Linked DNA regions of Homo sapiens: region 1 is linked to region 2. The links come from fine-mapping of genetic effects on gene expression. A gene starts in region 2. The other region holds a variant in brackets. All regions are shown on one strand. Distances are from middle to middle.

Region 1 (4,383 bases), 110 kb after region 2:
AATGTGTAAAACCTGTTGTATTAGTGATTATGGTTGATCTCAGTCAAAGGGTACAGTAGTACCCTTTACACTCCAGCTGTGGAAAAGGTGCATAGCTGGAGTCCAGGAGAGGCTAGTCACGAGCTTCTGATGGTCTCTTTCCAGTGGAGACACGTGGACAGTGCTTCTTCCCCCACAAGGATGTATGACAACATGCATAGGGTGTTGCCAACCAGGCGACTTCACCTGAGCCTTGGTGTCCTGAGTTTTTATTGAGAATTGACCACATAGACATGGCCAGACTAATCCAGAGAGGCCCAAGCCCTCAGCCATTAACCACATGGTTAGCCTAGACTATCTGTGTGGCCTAAAGCCCCCCCAAAACAAAGTCTCTCATCAGGCAGGACATTCTAAGGTCTTAGAGGTGACTTCCCAGGAACTTGGCAAAGGCAAGTCCTTTGCTTGGCAAGGGCCATGTTCATCCTTCACTGCAATTCTCCTCATACCTGGAGTTCTCTGGTGGCGGCTTTTTACCCCAGCTTCTCCCCTTCTTGTCTTGTGCATCCTCTGCAGAGCTGCCATATTCACCCTCCCAAAGTTTGCTCATCCTGACATCCCACTGAACCTTCAGTGACTCTGCCTTCCTTTGGATGAAGTCTCATCTCTTTCTCATGTTAACATTCCCTACAATCTGTGTGTCATCTACTTTTCCCATCTGTTAGCTGTCTGGAGTGCCTCTTTTGAGCTCTCCATGCTCTTGCATGTGAGTGATCTTGCAGGTAGTCATCGTGGCACATGCTGCTGCTAGCCGATGCTGGCTGCCTCCACACACTCCTGATGCCACCCTCCCTGCTCCTTGGCCTGCCACCTGGAATCCACCCTCCTGTTTACTTCCTTGTCTTCCTCCAGGGACTTGAGCATGAGGCCAGATTTCTGTCTGTGATTCTTATGGCATTGCAGTCCAGATTTTTACCTTTGTGGAATTGCTTTTTTTCACCTATCTCATTCAGTTTGCACTCCTGCAAACTCTTATCTTGGTGGGCTCCGTGGTGGGGTTTCCACCCAACTCCAGGGATGGTACCAGGAACTCATGCTTTAACTCACCATGGTGCTGGCGTAAATGGCTCTTCTCTTATACCTGATGACTTTCAGCTGTTCCTCCCTCATCTACTGTTTGTTTCACCTGCAATGCACCCACTAAAACATACTTCACTGTGTCTTTTAATATCCTCCTTATCTCCTCCTCATCCCTTAGAGCCCACATCACATTTCCCATTTTCAGAAATCTTTTCCTTGACTCTTCTGCCCATAAGTAACTTCTCTTTCCTCCAATTCATAGTATATACTGAACTACATAGCAGAAAAATCATATAGACAGCTCCTGAGAGTGTAATAGGTTCTTGTTTTGTCTTCTAAGCATCCACCATGTGTGGCCATGGGGCTGTGCTGTGCATGGTGATTAACGGAGGGACTGATGATGAGAGGCCTGTCAATTAAATGCCATGGCACTGGTCTAAGTCTTGCCTTTGGGAAATGCTGGCCCAGCAGTTCTTAGGTTTCTTGAACCTGTATCTTTTACGGTTTCTTTTCATCACTCCACTAAACTTTCTGATGCCAGGTGGTCTTGTCCATTTTTATTTCCAGTGTAATCTTACTGTTGTACGGTTTCTAAATTCAGCTCATAAGACTGGCCTGGCATGTTAATTTCTGCCATGTATCTGCAGGATAAAGGCTACCACTCAGCTCA[A/C]CTTTGGTCTCCAAAATAATGCTTAAGTCTACATCTTACCTCATTCTGAGTAAGTTGGGCAGGGAGAAGGTTGCATATTTTAGCAGAAAGTCATGTGCTGATGAGCACTTAGTAAGTTATAATTGGTATTCAATCTTCTTCATGTAGTTCCATCTAGAGACAATTTGAAGAGTGTAGGTGGCCACAGGGCAAAACTTCTGGGAAAGAGTTACTGTTTGTAAATCAAAAGTGTCGTCAAGATAGTTCTGCACATATATGTTCATGGTGGCATTTTTTAAGAGGCAGAACTCTGAAAATTATGACTCAGAGGATTTCAGAGGTTGTTGGCACCAAGGTTAAAGCTAAGCTAAAAGAGAAAAGAATAAGGATAATATGGAATTGAGTCAAATAGAGAAATTTATATGTTTATAAAAAATAAGCAGTTTCTTATTAAATGGGTAGTTAACTGTCGCTTAAAAATTTTCCAACTTCCAGTCTGGAGTGAGCCTCTGGGGCTTTGTAGTTTCTTTGCCTTTCAGCTTTCTTCTCAGTTTTCTAGAAAATATGTCAGTGATTTATGATTAATGCATTGGCTAATTTATGACCTTGCTGGGAGAGGACACGGGGGCTCTGCTTCTGGACCTGCAAGAATCATTGTCTGTTCCTCTAGCTTGGCTCCAACTCAAGGCCTCTGCTTTGTCACTATCATTTCTGTTCCTGAGTGCACGTTCCCAGGCACACATGGGTGTGTTGGTGAGCACCCTGTCTTCCCCAGGCAAGGGCTGACCCTCAGGAGCAGAAAGTCCCAACATGGCTCACTTGGCTGACAAGCCCCCAGGCTGTTAAAATATCTTTTTCACTATTTATGTAAACACAGGCACAGTAACAACCCTTTCGGGTGGACACCCTTGAATCCTGCTGCTGAGACTGATTTCCTGTTTAGACATCAAACTCTGTAGGAAGCTGTGTTTTCCCCCAAGCCAAGAGAGCTCTGTCCTGTGGGTATTGCTTTTCCACAAGGAAGGGGCTGGGTTTTGGAGTCTGTTGGTTGCACCAGGACTGTCTGGCGGTCCAGGCTGTGGGCTGTCCATGCTGGATTCGGCAGGGATGTCTTCTTCCTGCAGTATTTGCTCTCTGGTTGTGTTACTGATTGTGAATTCTTGCAATGATCTTTTTGGCCCCAGTCTCTTTCATTTAAGAGACTGACCCATATTCTGCAGGTGTGGTTTTGCTGTCCAGCTGAGGGTTCACATCAGCTCATTTGTGACCTCACTGGGGGAGGCAGGAGACCTATTAGCCCTGTTTTTAATGTAGTTCTGAGACATGGGAACTTACAGAAATTGCCAGCTATTCATGGCGGTAACCAGAGGATCTGTCAAACTTTATTACTTACATTTCAACTCAGATCTAAACAACTACAAGGACATTTTAGTAATAATTGTTGTAAAATAGATTTTAGGACTGGAGAGAGGATGCTTGTGTATTCAAACATGCCATTTAATAAAGGAGTTTCAACTAACATATTTTGTTGCCACGCCCAAAGGTGATATTAGTGATGTTGTGTAAAAGAAATTGGCCACTCTGAGGAATATTTCTGAGACTGAGTGTGCTTCCCTGGCTCCTCTTTTGGCTTCAAGGATTTGCATCTGCACCTTCTCCTGTCCAAAGGATGATGTCACGGACTTTTGAGGACTCTGCTGGGACTGGAGGATTGGCCGTGCTGCACGATATGAGGGTGCCTGGGCTGCTGGGGCGTCTCAGGCAGGCATGTCCCAGTGTGTTGCCCTGGGTCACCCCCTTGCTTCCCATGAACATACCAAAGGCCCGTCCTGGAGGAAGGGAGACTCATAGAGAGGCAGTGCCACCTTGACCTGTTCCCTGGCCTCTGAACCCTAGGGCTTCCAAAATGGCACTTCAGCAGGTATAACATTTTATAAATTTCCAGCTGCTGTCGTTCAGTTCATTTTCTGCAGGCAGATGGCCTCGGATCATGACTGAAGCTGACCGTGTGGGAATCACTGCCTAGAGGGACAGCCAGAATGTTCTGGGAAGTTCTTTCTCCCATTTTCCCTTCTTCAGGGTGGCGAGGAAGAATGTCAGGGTGTTTCACATTTATAGCAGCCAGAAGCTGCCACCTGGGAAGTGTAGAGAAAAACCAGATGAATGAAGAGAACAGAAAAAAGCATGAGCCCTGAAATGCAGTATTTGAAGTCACAGGCATCCTTCACTGGTGATGAACACATTTCTCATATGGATCATAGATGGAAAGTCACCTATATTTTCAGCCTCTGGCATACATGTTTCTAGGGAGGCTGGCGTTTCGTGGTCATCTTTCCATCCAATGACAACATCAAGGTTTCAGAATTTTTGTATATGAAATTGAATGACGAGATTGGACAGGTTTACTTGGTTTTGGTAAAGTGGCTTGTTTTTCACGATGCATCATTCCTTTTCCTATAAAGCCTCATAATTGTGCACCTAATAAATCAGTATGTAAATAAAAATACAAACTCAAATTTCTAGCAGAGTTTGTGCTACTGCCTTTGTCTCCTGTTCTTGAATTGTATAAGGTACCATGTGTTCCAAAAAGTGGAATGAGTCATGAAAAGGATAAATTCATATAATGAATCTTAATTTAATTTTCAGACTGCTTTAGATAATTTCAGACTGGTTAAGAT
Region 2 (4,383 bases):
ACAGCAAAACTGAATTCAACTCCCCCCTACATATATACAAAATTATGTAATTTATCCAGTTAAATGTTATGTTATCAGACCTATTGGGTCATGGTTTAGAAAGCTATCTTCTTCCCACTGCTTAGCTCTATATGCCAAGAGTTTTTTTGCTTTTTTTTTTTCTTTTCAAGTATTAACGGCAATGTTCAGAGGCAAGAAGAGGATTAGCTGAATACATTGGGTTCTAATTTCTGTCTCCCTCACCCTGGCCACGTAGGCTCCACAGGTCCAGGCAAAGGCTGCAGATCCAAGCATAAGGCAGCTTCCTCCCTACATCTTTCCCCCTAGAAGCAGCCAGGCAAGACCTTGGCCTGCCTCTTCCTCCCAGGGAGGCTCCTAGGCCTCTGTGCCACGTAGGCAAGATAATCGGAATGTCTGGAATGGAACTAGTGCTCTAAGTGCCAAGCAAGGGAAGGGAGAACGGTTAAGCTTTTCCTTCAGGTCCCCAGGAGCCTGCAGCTGCCACACAGCAGGCCGGGAGCCCCCGCCACAACCCAGGGAGGAATGCTTGCCAAGAAGGCCTGCCCAGCTACTGACACTTCCTCCCAGAGGTCTTAAAGGAAATCCCAGTAAGGCCTGAGTACCCAAGACAGCCAGATCACCCGTGCCAGAGACTGGGCATTTGGGGATGGGCTGGGCTTTCATAGAAACCTTCGGAATTGCTTTCACTTAATTCTTTTATTTTAAAAAAAAGTTCTAGAAAATAAAGACACATCGATAGCAATTTGTATTTCCATTGTCCTCTTAGGTCTGCATGGCTACTGTGCGAGCTATGACACCCTGCAGCCTGCAATAGCTTCTTTGTTTTATGGATGAGCTCAATGGAACCCTTATGGACGCACCGGACCATGCCCAGGACCAGCGAGGCCCATCCATACCCCACCACTGGCTGGAAGGGCGCTGGTGTGAACGTGGGTCCTTGCGGGGGTCCCTACCTCACTGCGGTCAGGAGGGGGCAATTCACACATTTCCTCATGCAGGGGACCTTCAAGCCTCCCTCTGAGGCGCAGACTGAGTAAAAAGGGCCCAGAGATACTGTCCCGCACCCCCATCCAGTGGGAAAGGGCCACTCAAGGCCAGTCAGGACTCCCAACCCAAGTTTTATGCCTTATACTCCTATAACTTTACCATTTGCTCTTTTCGCGAGGCTGACCCCCTCCCTCTCCCCCCCCACCGCCTCCTCCAGAAACTGAAGAACTGCAACAAAGTGTCCAATTATACACGTCTTCAAAGGTACTTTACTTGCTTCCCAATTATCAACTTTTCACCTGAGTACTTAGTAAGGCCCAAGGATCCTGCAAAAGTGCAACAAGGAATAATTGACACAGAATTGGACGAATGACTTTGACCATACGGGACTTCTCTCTTAACGCTCAGCGTGGCTACCTGGGGACGCCTTCTCTGGCCTCCCTGATTCGTCAGATTTGTTCATTTCCTTGACTTAATCCCGCTGAAATCGACCCGAACTAGCCGGGAGTCTCACCCCCAAAGTGCTCCTCCAAGAACCCGCAACGACTGACTCTCTCGTCTTCTTTAAGGAGTTTCTCCCTCAGAACGGATGAGGATGTCACACAGAAAGAACAAAATCACAAAGTTCGAGTTCCGGAGGACCAGACGGCCCCTGCCCCCCATCCCCCGGGCCAGATTTAGCCGAGGGAACCGCACGTACCTGAAGCCGAGGCCGGCAGAGAGGGAGCGCCACGTCTCAGGTCTCGGCCGGCGCCCCCCTCCGGGGTGCAGCCACGTCTGAACCGGGACAGCGGGCGGGGGAGCCGCAGAGGGACCCAGTGAGACGGGGGAGGGAGCCCCCAAAAGTCAGCGCTCGGCCGCACTCGCACTGGGGAGGCTGGAATGGAACTCCTGGGGTGCAGCGGGGCTCCCAGGAGCGAAGGTGGGGGTCCTGTACCGGGAAGGGGCGGGGCCCGGGGAGGGGCTCGGGGAGGTCAGGCGCGGGTGGGGCGCTCGAGTTTCACCCCGGCGGGGAGGAGGAGGAGGAGGAGGCGGCGCGGCGGCGGGGGCGGGGCAGGGGCGGGGCGGGGCGGGGGTGGGCCCAGGCTGTCCCCCGCTCCCCGCCCAGCGCTCTCCGCCCCGCGCTCTCCGCGCCCGCTCGCCCCGCGCCGATCTACTTGCCGGGAAGGCGGCGCCGGTGGCGGCTGCTCTCCCTGAGCCCGCTCCCGAGCGCTGCTTTCCCGCCGCGGGTGGGCTTCGCAGCCTCAGGCCAGCCGCGGCCCTTGGCCCGCTGCAGCCCCGGCCCTCCACCTTCCCCGTGCAGGGGCGGCCCGGCCAGTGTCGCTCATCCCGGGACGCTCCCTTCTCCCACCCAGGACTGCCCCGCGGAGCTGGCTTGGACACCCAACTTTGCCACCTCGAGGGTCGTCTCTGCTGGGCGCGAACCTGCCCACCCACCGGTTGGCCGCGCGCTCGGGGACCGTGCTCGTGGCCCCCAAGCCGGTGCCCCCATTCTGGAACTCAGCGAGTAGGGGGCGGCTCTGGGGAAGTGGCAGGGGGCGGCTGCAGCTGCTGCCTCCACTTCCCTAGCCAGGTGCTGAAGAGGATCCTCGGAGCCGCTCTGGCCCCCAGGCGCTGGATGACTGGCACCAGCGCTCCTCGCACCTGGTGAGCGACCCCCGCCCGATTCCTGCGTGGCCTTGGCAGGAGCCCCTGACCGCGCCGCGCCGCGCCGCGCCGCTGGCCGGGACCCGGGGACTGCAGCGGTCGGCTGGTGGGTGGTGCCGATCTCGGGTGGGATCCATCAGCAGGCACCTGGGCGGGGGTTGCGCGTACAGGATTAGGACGACCGTCAGTCCGGGGGCGCCCACAGTTGAGCTAGTGCACGGGCTGGAAGTTTGTGTACCCGCCTGTGCCGAGGTCTGAGCATGGAGAGGTAAGGAGCCGGAGTGTCGCGGTGGGCGAGACGGGACCCCTGCCCAACACCCGGAAAGGTGCGCACACTGGTCTGTGCCCGCCCCCGGCGCGCCTCCAGGCTCGCACTGCCGCGAGCCGGGGGCAGGGGACACGGAGGTCGGGACTTGGCGGTTCGGGAGCGGCCACCTCGCAGCCCCACCGGCTTGGGCAGGTTTTCCTGCTTTCCTTACAGGGGAACCGGGAGGCAATGGGACTTGGGCTCAACTCCGCCAAGCGCCTTGGTTAATGAAAGACACTAAGGCGGGGGATGCAGAGGCCTGGGGAACCACCAGCCAGGTGCGCTGCAGCTAGGCGAGCCCCTTTCACCAGGCATCCCTCCGCTGCTCCACGGATTTTGCACACCGCGGCTCAGGGTTTCAGACCCCAGGGTTTCGGGCAGATCGGGCTCCAGAGGGAATGGTTTCTCCCAAGATGTGCGTGGGAACGGTCGTGGAGGAGTGATTCCCCCGGCTCGCTCCCCGCGGCGGCCGGTGCCTGGCTTGGAGCGGTCACATCCCTGTTCCCCTGGCTTTGGCGGGAAGCGCGTTCACCTCCTCGCCCTTTGCTTGCTTTGTACCAGGATGCCGCGGCCGGAGTTGGGATTTAACTTTCCTGCGCCTGCGGCGTCCTCGGGATTCCCGGCAGGGGGCGCTGCGAGCGAGCGCTCGGAGGACGAGGCGCCACAGGCAGTTGCTGGGTCCTGGGCGAGTGGGCGGGAGTCCCAGGCAACAAACAGCAGAACCAGGCAGATCTTGCAATAATTTCATTTTGGGGGCCGGGGGTTGGGGGAGCTGATCTGGTGGCTATAGAGAGCTGTCAGCCTTGCTAGGAGAGGGGACAGGAAAGGTGGTGGCCAGACATAAATGCTCTAACTAGAAAGGTCTCTTCCAGAGAAAAAGATCGCTGTAAAGTCTTCCTTGTCTGGGCATCTGCCTTCCTTGTGACTGTTACATTTACTCAGAAAGAAATCGAAATTGAGGGAAGATAACGTGAGCTTTGTTTAATACCGTTCTGCTTTTTAGGGGTACTTTAGTTAACACATCAGGAGTCACAAATGATTGTTCTGGTTTGTTTTGAAGAAAGACAAGTTTTACGTCTAGCTTACCGAGAAGAGCTCTGTCATAATGGCTGAGTTTGGAATCAGCAGATATGTTATTAATTATAGAGGTAGTCTGTTCATAAGGAGACAGAAACACAAAACCAGGCTTTAATAAGAAAGATTTTTCAATACCTAATTAGGATTGCTGAATTTGTTGCTAATTAATGCCAGTTTCATTATTTTAGAGAGTGTAATGTTTATCATGACCACTTTACACAACTTCAGTTCAAGCAGATAATACCATTAAGTTATGTATAACTGAAATAATTTTCTTGTCTGTGCCTGTATTTACACCAAAAGAAACATGGATTTTTTTTTCCCCTCCAAAAGATTTCTTTTTC

The links. PIP is the estimated chance that this variant, and not a neighbour inherited with it, causes the effect. A credible set is the group of variants that fine-mapping cannot tell apart.
Region 1: its variant is the best candidate, but not a certain one, in a credible set for the expression of SEMA5A in fibroblasts (GTEx, PIP 0.67).

What each region holds. Positions count from the first base shown.
Region 1 is chr5:9,438,152-9,442,534 of GRCh38, reverse strand. All of the region lies in intron 1 of SEMA5A (semaphorin 5A), which reads left to right. Among named protein-coding and RNA genes, the nearest start is that of SEMA5A-AS1, 71 kb to the left of the region's middle. The variant A/C (reference allele first, on the strand shown) is at 1,727.
Region 2 is chr5:9,543,856-9,548,238 of GRCh38, reverse strand. It overlaps SEMA5A (semaphorin 5A), which reads left to right and starts at 2,164. Exons shown (of 23, transcript NM_003966.3): 1 at 2,164-2,655. It overlaps SNHG18 (small nucleolar RNA host gene 18), which reads right to left and starts at 2,039. Exons shown (of 3, transcript NR_045196.2): 1 at 1,709-2,039. RefSeq lists a silencer at 2,041-2,230.